Homo sapiens: one gene and its partner. The protein of the gene in region 2 purifies or fractionates together with the protein of the main gene of each other region. This does not show direct contact. Each region holds a gene or a part of one and is shown on either strand. Other genes may lie near its edges.

Region 1 (4,875 bases), on a different chromosome or scaffold from region 2:
TGAGGGTTCTGGAAACTGATGGAATGAGACTGAGTGAGGGCTAGGATTTTAGGGCACAGGTGGGAGAGTCTGTGGAGTGAAGGATACTGGAGCACAAGGGCTCAGTGTGAGGGAAATGAAGAAGTGGCTTCATCATTTGGATGATGGCAGATCTGGTTTGAAAGAACATTGAAATGAGGGTGGTTTGGGAAGGGAATGGGGGAATGAAGGACACCAAAGCGTGAGAAGAACTAGATGGTGGGCAGGTAAGGATGGATGAGCCCTGTTGAAGGACCAGAGGTGCCTGTCTGATTTGAACCCAGCTGGTGTTGAGTGTAACATATATTAGGGTAAGATCTTCAATGGGTATAGTTTGGGAATCAGAGTAATAACTTGCAGAAAGGCAAATTACTGGGAGTGGGGGTGTCAGGAGTGGAGTGACAGATTTGGGGATTGTCTAGATTAGGTGCGTAAGAATGCAGTGCCTTAGATTAGTGCATGTGGCTGTCAGGTTTGGGAGTCGGAGATTTTAAGATGACAGACTGTCCCTGCTGGTATCTGATATAGGGCCACAGCATTTGCCGTAGTTAGGACTGGGTTAACAGATTTGAGGTTGAAATTGGGTTTAATGACTTGGGAACAAATAATTAAAACTTGAAGGCAGGAGGAATGGGGGTGAGATACAGCCAGTGTGCCTATGATAACCCAATAGAAGTTAAGAAAATAGATTCAACAGATTTGGGAGCCATGGGGATATGGGATAACGTTACAAATTTAAGTATGAAATTGGGGTCAGTGGGACTCCCAAATAGTGTTGACTAAACTGGATAAGGACAGCAAAAGAGCAGTTGTGGCGATTTGGAGTGGAGGAATAAAGGAATACCACCTGTATTTAAGAGAACACAGATCAAGACAAAACTTAATTCAGAACAACCTTGGAGCTTTTAACCCAGAAGGGAAAAGGTCTAGAAGGGAAGTACTCACTGCCTGGGTCAGCTGACTCACCCCTTTCCTCCTTTGCTCCACTGGGTCAAAATTTTTTTCTTTTAAAGACAGTCCCCATCATAGAGGAGTTTTTAAATTTACAATCATTAATCTGTTAGGCATCTCAGAATCAGATCCATAGGAGATAGCCTGAACTTTGAAAAGCACTTGCTTGATAAAGGCAAAAGGGGACAGGGTTGATCCCAAAAAGCACTGGAAGCATACCTAATCCAGTTTACAAGGTAGCGCTTTCTAACTTGCCACTTCTACTGCCTCCCACAGCTGCAGGCCAAATCCTCTCCCACATGTCAGAGGAATCGCTCTGGTCCATGGGCCCAGCTGGCCTGCTTAGAGGGCACAGGGCTGGTATCCTGGCCCCTTGCCAAGGGAGGAAGGAGCCTTCTCACTCCCCACCTAGGTGCTGGTCTCCTTGACACCTTGCCTCCTCCCTGGCAGCAGGGGCTCTCACCCCTCGACAGAGACTTCCTGCTCCTCACATGGATATGGATGGTCCTTCACCCACCCGCGGGTTTAATAAATATTTCAGGCTGGGCGCAGTGGCTCATGCCTGTAATCCCAGCACTTTGGGAGGCCGAGGCGGGTGGATCACCTGAGGTCGGGAGTTCGAGACCAGCCTGACCAACATGGAGAAACCCCGTCTCTACTAAAAATACAAAAAATTTGCCGGGTATGGTGGCGGGTGCTTGTATTCCCAGCTACTTGGGAGGCTGGGGTAGGAGAATCACTTGAACCCGGGAGGTGGAGGAGGTGGAGGTTGCGGTGAGCTGAGAGCACGCCATTGCACTCCATCCTGGGCAACAAGAGTGAAACTCCATCTCAAAAAAAAAAATAAATAAATAAATATTTCAGATATAAGAAGCATCTGTACAGCAAGAACTATCATAGCCCTACAGAAATGAGGGGGTCGTTTTGTCACAGGGATGTAGGGTGATTGAGGTGAGAACGCAGCTAAGGATATGTTTGAGGAGTAGCTGGAATTTGAGGTAACAGTTTGCTAAGCCTGGGAATGGGAGGAATAGACATGGAGGTGTCTGCAGTAGATTTGGTAAGAAATTTGAGTTTGGGGTGCACTTTGGAATAGATGACTTAATGGCTGACCTGTCTGAGGTTTGGGTATGATGTATTTTCTTATTGCCACATTTGGAATTGAGGTTGGAATGAAGTTTTTCATCTGGAGATGAGAATAACTGAGATTTGTTCTGAGATGGGAGTAGGGTTTGCAGTACATACAAATGGAGGTTTCTCTACTGGGAATATTTGGGATTTGAATGTAAGAATGTTGGGGTGTGGGTGTGACTTGGATTGTGGTTGGACAGTGTCTGGGACCAGGCATTTCTGTTGATTGGGAGTTTACGTGCTGCCAATGGTTAGAGACACTGACGAGCTTTCTGGTATGCTTTGATGGGGAAAACATGAACAAGAGCCACATTAGAATTTGTGGGAGAAGAGTTAAGCAAAGGGGGCAAGAGGTGTGAGGAGAGGTGGTGAGGCTGAATCACCACGAGACTCTGAGCGTCCCTTTGTCTTTGTTAATTCTGAAGGTGGGTCATGAGCCGATGCCCCCCACCCTTGGGACCAATGTGCTGGGGAGGAAGGTCCTCTATCTGCCGAGCTTCTTCACCTACGGTGAGTGTGCCTCCCAAGCAGGAAAGCCCACACCAACAGAAAAGAGGCCTCAGGTGGGGAGCAGGACCAGCTGGCCCCGGGGAACTCACTGCGCAGCATGGCACGCAGTCGAGCTGGCATGGAGGAGGGGATCTAAGCGTGTACAGAGAGGACATGGTGTCGGGGTGCGAGCAGGTGAACCATACAGCTTTGGTCCAGCTCCTCTGCCTGTAGCTGCCAGCTGCCAGCCCAGACAGCAGGAGGGGACAGACACAGGTGCCTGAGAGAGGAGCCAATCTAGGACACTGGTCCCTATTATTTCTGCTGCCCCGGGTTGTGCCTGGAACATGCGTGGGGGTGATTTCCTTTTGTCCTGTGAGCAGCCTGGCCCTGCTACTCCAGCAGGAGGCCCGGGGGGTCCTCTTGAGTTTTTTTCTTTTATCCCACCTGGGTGTCTTGTTTCCCCTGCATTCCTCAGGCAGTGAGTGGTGCTCACTCACTCTGGTGTCTCCATCTGTTGGTTACAGAATGGTGTGCAGTGAATTGCAGCTTCACTTCTGTGTGCTGCGTGAGTTTGGGTGGGCCACTTACCTGCTGTGGCCTGGCTGCACCCCTTGTCTGCAAAGTAAGGTCAGCTTCTCCTGCCCAGGCCTTCCTGCAAGCTCCCCAACTGTCATCAAGAAGCCCACCTTGCTGCCTCTGCTGCCCATCACCTGGCCCACAGGTGCCGTCTGGCCAGGGCCTTTTCATGTTCACCCTCACTGTCCCTCTCCCAGTCCCTACCCTCACCAGATGACCATGATGAAGGCCTTCTTTAAATGTGCCCTTTTTCTCCGTGTTCACAGCTGGAGTTCCATTGCAGGCAAATCCCCTCCAGTTTCCTGCACCTCTGCTCTTACCTGTTTGGTTGTCTAGAATATTCTCCAGAATCTATCTTTCTGTTGAGTAACTTGGGGCTTGGCCTCTGTCTTACCTTTTCCATTTCACATGCTGTTGGCAGAATTGGGTGTCATATTTCTCTTCCAGTTTTGTCCCTGTGTTGTTGAGTGCAGAGTCTAGGGCCAGGTGGAATGTGTCATCTTGTGAGGAAATGTGTTTGTGTTGTTTTTTACTTAAAAATTGTCAGCGTAGTGGAGAGGGGAATGACAGAAGTAGGAAGGCACCCCACCATTGTGTAGTGAGGCAGTATACAGAGAGGTAAGGCAGCCGGGGCAGATGGCTGCGGCCCTGCACGGGGCTTTTTCTGGATCTGGTTGCACGTGCTGTGTTCTGAGAGGCGAGGTTAGAGCCCAGATCATCTCTATTCATGTGACACAGCCATTCCCAAAAGGACTTAGAGCAGAGGGAACTTGACCCCCATCTTAACTGTCTCTTTTGAGGATGAGCAGAGTTCTCAGGTGTGCCCCCAGCCTGGTTTATATAAATGTAGCTTTAATCTAGGTGTGAGCAGATGTCTGTTGGGGATCTCTGGACACCAGGCCTACTCTGGAGTCAGAGAGGGGACCCGCCATTTGGCTCTCTGGTACAGTGTGGACAGTGTCTGCTCCTCTACTTGTCATGGCTGAAAGTACTGCAGCTGTCATGACATTCTCTGGTGTAGAAGAAAGAACTTCCCAGAGGGTTTCCTGGCACTGCAGAAAGACCCAGAATGAGGGAGGCCCTGGGACCCACAGAGGCCCCTGCAGGCATTTCAGCACGCCTCCCTCCGCTCTCACTTGTTCCTCAGTTCTCTCAGAAATGGAGAGAAATGACGGTCCTTATTCCTTCTTTTTTTACAGGTGGGCAGATGGAAGAGGGTCGATGTTTTGCTCAGGATCACAAACAGAGGTCCTGAGGCTCCCTCTCCTCACTAGGATCCACCCTCCCCCAAAGCAAATTTTCCTTTTGCCTGTTCACTCTGTGAAGAGGGCTCCTTGCCAAGTCACCCAGCATCCCCTCCCCTCCTCCTCCTCTCCTTCCAGCCCACCCTCATCTCAGGCAATCACATATACAGGTAACAGGTGTTCTCAGCCTCATGAAAAACCCATGCTAGCTGTGACATTGAATTGCTGGGCTGGCAGACATCTGCGGAGGAGCAAAAGGCATATTTGCTTCTTCCTGCCTCTGCGCGGTGCCAGAGAGCTAAAGTCATGGTCTAACAGGGGGAGCATGCTGTCTGAGAGAATGTTCTGCTAGCTTCCAGATGCACAGGTTTATAAAAATACCACCCTGCCATTTAAAACATGTTTAAAATGTTGATAGAAAACAATGAATCGTATCCTTAGAAAGACAGACCCTAGTGAAAGA
Region 2 (4,347 bases):
GGTAAGGGTCCTCACTGGTTGCTGAAACCATATGGTATAAAGCTATTGAGGCTAGAATATTTGCACGGTTTGAAATTACCATAGGTTACTTACTAATTAGAGAAAAAATACCTTGAAAATAGAGAAATAGAGAAACTGGTAGATGTCACCTTAACCAATTGATCAAACCTAATATCAGTAATGGAGCAAATTGAACTCATGTACCTCCTGATGTAATGCACTGAAGATGTATTATCTTTTCTTTCTACCCAAAATGTTTAACTTGGGCTGGGCATGGTGGCTCATGCTGGTAATAACAGCACTTTGGGAGGCAGAGGTGGGAGGATTACCTGAGCCCAGAAGTTCCAGACCAGCCTGGGCAACATAGCAAGAGTCTATCTCAAAAAAAAAAAATTTAGCCTGAATCTAATAATCAGAAACAACTAGACAAATACAAATTGAAGGGCAGTCTTTTAAAAACAGGACTGGACATTTTAGAAATATCAATGTCACAAACACACACAGACTAGAACGAAGCTGTTATAAATTCAATGTGTTGATCCTGATTGGATCCTAGATGGAAAAAAAGTATAAAGGACATTATTGGTACAATTGATGAAGTTTGAATATGGACTGTATGTTAAATAAGAATATCGTATCACTGTTCAGTTTTTTGTGTGTGTTTTTTGGTTGTTTTTTTTTTTTTTTTTTTTTTTTTTGGTAGAGATGGGCGGGGGGGTGTCTCATCATGTTGCCCAGGCTAGTCTCAAACTCCTGGGCTCAAGCAATCCTCTCATCTCGGCCTCCCAAAGAACTGGGATTACAGGCATGAGCCACCATGGCCGGCCATTGTTAAATTTCCTGAGTGTGGTATAGTTGTATTTCAGTAATGTAGGAGAATGTCTTTGTTTTTAGGAGATACATGCTAATGAAATATTTAGGGGTGAAGTGTAATGATGTCTGCAGCTCATTCTCAGATTGTGTAGCAAAAAAATCATGTATATATAGAGAGAAGGTGAGGTGGAGAAAGCAAATGTAGGAAAAAATAATGGTTGCCAAACTAGGAGAAGCATATAAAGTTGTTCATTGTGTCACTCTTGAAATATTTCAAAATTTTAAAATGGATTTGGTGAATAAATAAATAAAGGAATGACCTGAGAACAAGATTTTTGAAATGAGAAATGTCTTTGCTGAAATAAAGTCAAGGAAATCTCCAAAAGAAAGAGAATATAGAGAAAAGATCAGAAAACAAGAGAATTTATCTAAAAAGTCCAACATCTGACTAGTGGTAGTTCTAGAGAGGCCAGAAACAGGGGAGGAAATTGTCAAATAGTAGGTTGGTACAAAAGTTATTGTGGTTTTTGCCGTAGAAAGTAATACCAAAAAAGTGTCTAGAACTTCAGAGCAAGAGTTTCTAGATTGAAAGGGCCTGAGTACCCACCACAATGAATGGAAAGGAAAAATAAAGCTGTACCAGGGCACATTATCATACAATTTCAGAATTGAGGATGTAGAAAACAACCTAAAAGCTCTGAAGGGAATATCTCTGGGTGGTGAGGTGAAATAAACTAATAGATTACTTAATGTAGTTGATTATGAGAAAAATACTGTTGAGAAGGGTTTTGTGATTGTGTAATAAACTTTGGAGAGATTTCCAATAGTGACACAGAAAACTAAGCAAATGAAAAAAAAAAACAAGGAAGTTACTAAGTCTAGGAGAATTAAAAGACTATATAAGAAAATAAATATAAAATCCTAGTACCTACTTAGCTAAGCAGGGAATACTTACAAAGTCGTAATAAGGTAAACACTGAATCAAAATTTGTGATGTAACTGATGTTATTAGGAGAGTATATGATGTAGTAGTGGGAATGTGGGATAGTATGAGTGTTGAATCTCCGTATTCCATAGTAGGAAGTTAGTAGATAATGCCAGAAATGAATAAATCAAGGAATAGTGGTATAACCTTACATGTAAATACTTAAATGTAGGCACAGACATTTCAGTTATTTTACTTAAGGGTTTATTGTAAAAGTCTTGTTACCAGGAATACCAGTAAAAGTGACAGAAGTCCTTTTGTCTCTCAGCATGGTTAACCGTAGCTATCAAGAAACAAATTAATTGTAGATGAGAGTTTGGAATCTATACCACCAAATCTTTGCAGTGTTAAGTTTAATAACCATTGTTAACAAAAATAGCCACTGGAAGAAGTAAACTTTTCATTTTCATTAAATCTTTTTTATTTTATGAAATCTTTTTTATTTCAAAGTACACATAAGGATTTAAGGATATTATTTTTAAATCTTTTAAGTCTCTGTAAATAACAGTGCTTTTGATTTGAATATTTGCTGATTACAGAAAATATCACCTGTTTACATTTTAACCTTCCCTTTCTTCCCTTCAAAATGACAAATGAAACATTACAATTTTATTTCCTTTAAATAAAATGGTGTTTATGGTATTAGAAATTTTATAGCCTTTTGTTTGTTCTGGCACTGGGTAGCTCAACAGGGAGGAAAGCATTCCTACCTAAATTTTTTTCACTTATACTGTGTATGAGGAATTGGGAGAAGTATTTTAATGAATGCAAATCCTTCAAACTCCTTAGTTAGAAAGTATTTGGTATTTTCAGTTATTATGCTAGTTAAATGACCTTTCTCCGTGTTTCTCATGTGTTTACTTTTTAGGGTAAGGTAGCCGAACGTGGTACCCACCATGGTTTGCTTGCTAACCCTCATAGTATCTATTCAGAAATGTGGCATACACAGAGCAGCCGTGTGCAGAACCATGATAACCCCAAATGGGAAGCAAAGAAAGAAAATATATCCAAAGAGGAGGAAAGAAAGAAACTACAAGAAGAAATTGTCAATAGTGTGAAAGGCTGTGGAAACTGTTCGTGCTAAGTCACATAAGACATTTTCTTTTTTTGTTGTTTTGGACTACATATTTGCACTGAAGCAGAATTGTTTTATTAAAAAAATCATACATTCCCATTTTCTATAATCCTTCTTTTAGATAAGATTTATTTAAAAGGGGATTTGAGTTTTACATCTTTCATAGTCTATTTAATGTGGCATCTGTATTTATCCCCAAATTATTTTCTTGTCACTGTCCTGGTTGTGCTCAATGCATACTTTTTGCTACCTGTTTGATATTACCACATTACCCTCTTGAGGCCTGACATTCATTTGATCTATAGCCAGATGAATCAGATTGGTTTCCCAATTTTTATAGTTTTTAAAACCTTTATGCTGACAATTTAGAGGGAAAGTGTCTGTTTCTTAACATGAAAGAAAAAGAGGATAGTGTAGGTTCATTGTTTCTTCTCCCTCCTTCGTCCAATTGAAATTGATGTGAAAATGAATTTATAAACTTTTAAAATTAGAATGTATCAGAAATAGACATGCATTTATAGTTTGATGTCTTACTTGATAGGTTACTTACTTTTTTCTTTTTTGTTTTGTTGTTTTTTGTTTTTTGTTGTTTTTTTTTTTTGAGACAGATTCTCATTCTGTCACCCAGGCTGGAGTTCAGTGGCACATCTCGGCTCTCTGCAACCTCTGTCTTCTGAGTTCAAGCAATTATCATGCCTTGGCCTCCCAAGTAGCTGGAATTACAGGCGCATGACACCACACCTGGCTAATTTTTCTGTTTTTAGTAGAGACAGGGTTTTGCCATGTTGGCCAGGCTGGTCTTGAACTCCTGACCTCACATGATCCGCCCACCTTGGCCTCCCAAAGTTCTGGGATTACAGGTGTGAGCCATCATGCCCAGCCTATACTTAGAATTTTTTTTTTTTTTTTTTTGAGACGGAGTCTCGCTCTTTCTCCCAGGCTGGAGTGCAGTGGCGCGATCTCGGCTCACTGCAAGCTCCGCCTCCTGGGTTCACGCCATTCTCCTGCCTCAGCCTCCTGAGTAGGTGGGACTACAGGCGCCCGCCACCATGCCTGGCTAATTTTTTTGTATTTTTAGTAGAGATGGGGCTTCACCGTGTTAGCCAGGATGGTCTCAATCTCCTGACCTCGTGATCTGCCCGCCTCGGCCTCCCAAAGTGCTGGGATTACAGGCTTGAGCCACCGCACCCGGCCGCTAGAATTTTTGAAGTATTTGCAACTATGTACTTTTTGAAGGAAAAAAACCTTCATTCTCATGTCGCTATGTAGAATATTCTTCATCATTAAGCAGCACCATAACTATCATCTAGTGATTAGAATTTTATTTTTCCATAAAAATATGAGGCACTGTTTTTGTTTTGGACAAAACTACACATTTTTCTTTAAAGATTTACAAACTCCTATGTAATTTGAAAGTTGCTATACTGGGAGTAATCTGAAAAGCTTAGAAAGTTCATTTCCTTTTATATTTCCA

The links. The genes of interacting proteins can lie anywhere in the genome.
Region 1: the proteins of ABCB7 (region 2) and MTCH1 fractionate together in Homo sapiens (co-fractionation; one large-scale study listed by BioGRID). This does not show direct contact.

The regions. Positions count from the first base shown.
Region 1 is NC_000006.12:36,979,323-36,984,197, reverse strand, and holds part of MTCH1 (mitochondrial carrier homolog 1), read left to right. Parts: intron 1-2,525; coding exon 2,526-2,610; intron 2,611-4,875.
Region 2 is NC_000023.11:75,051,905-75,056,251, reverse strand, and holds part of ABCB7 (iron-sulfur clusters transporter ABCB7, mitochondrial), read left to right. Parts: intron 1-2,666; coding exon 2,667-2,882; 3' UTR 2,883-4,347. UniProt on the Homo sapiens protein: Exports glutathione-coordinated iron-sulfur clusters such as [2Fe-2S]-(GS)4 cluster from the mitochondria to the cytosol in an ATP-dependent manner allowing the assembly of the cytosolic iron-sulfur (Fe/S) cluster-containing proteins and participates in iron homeostasis.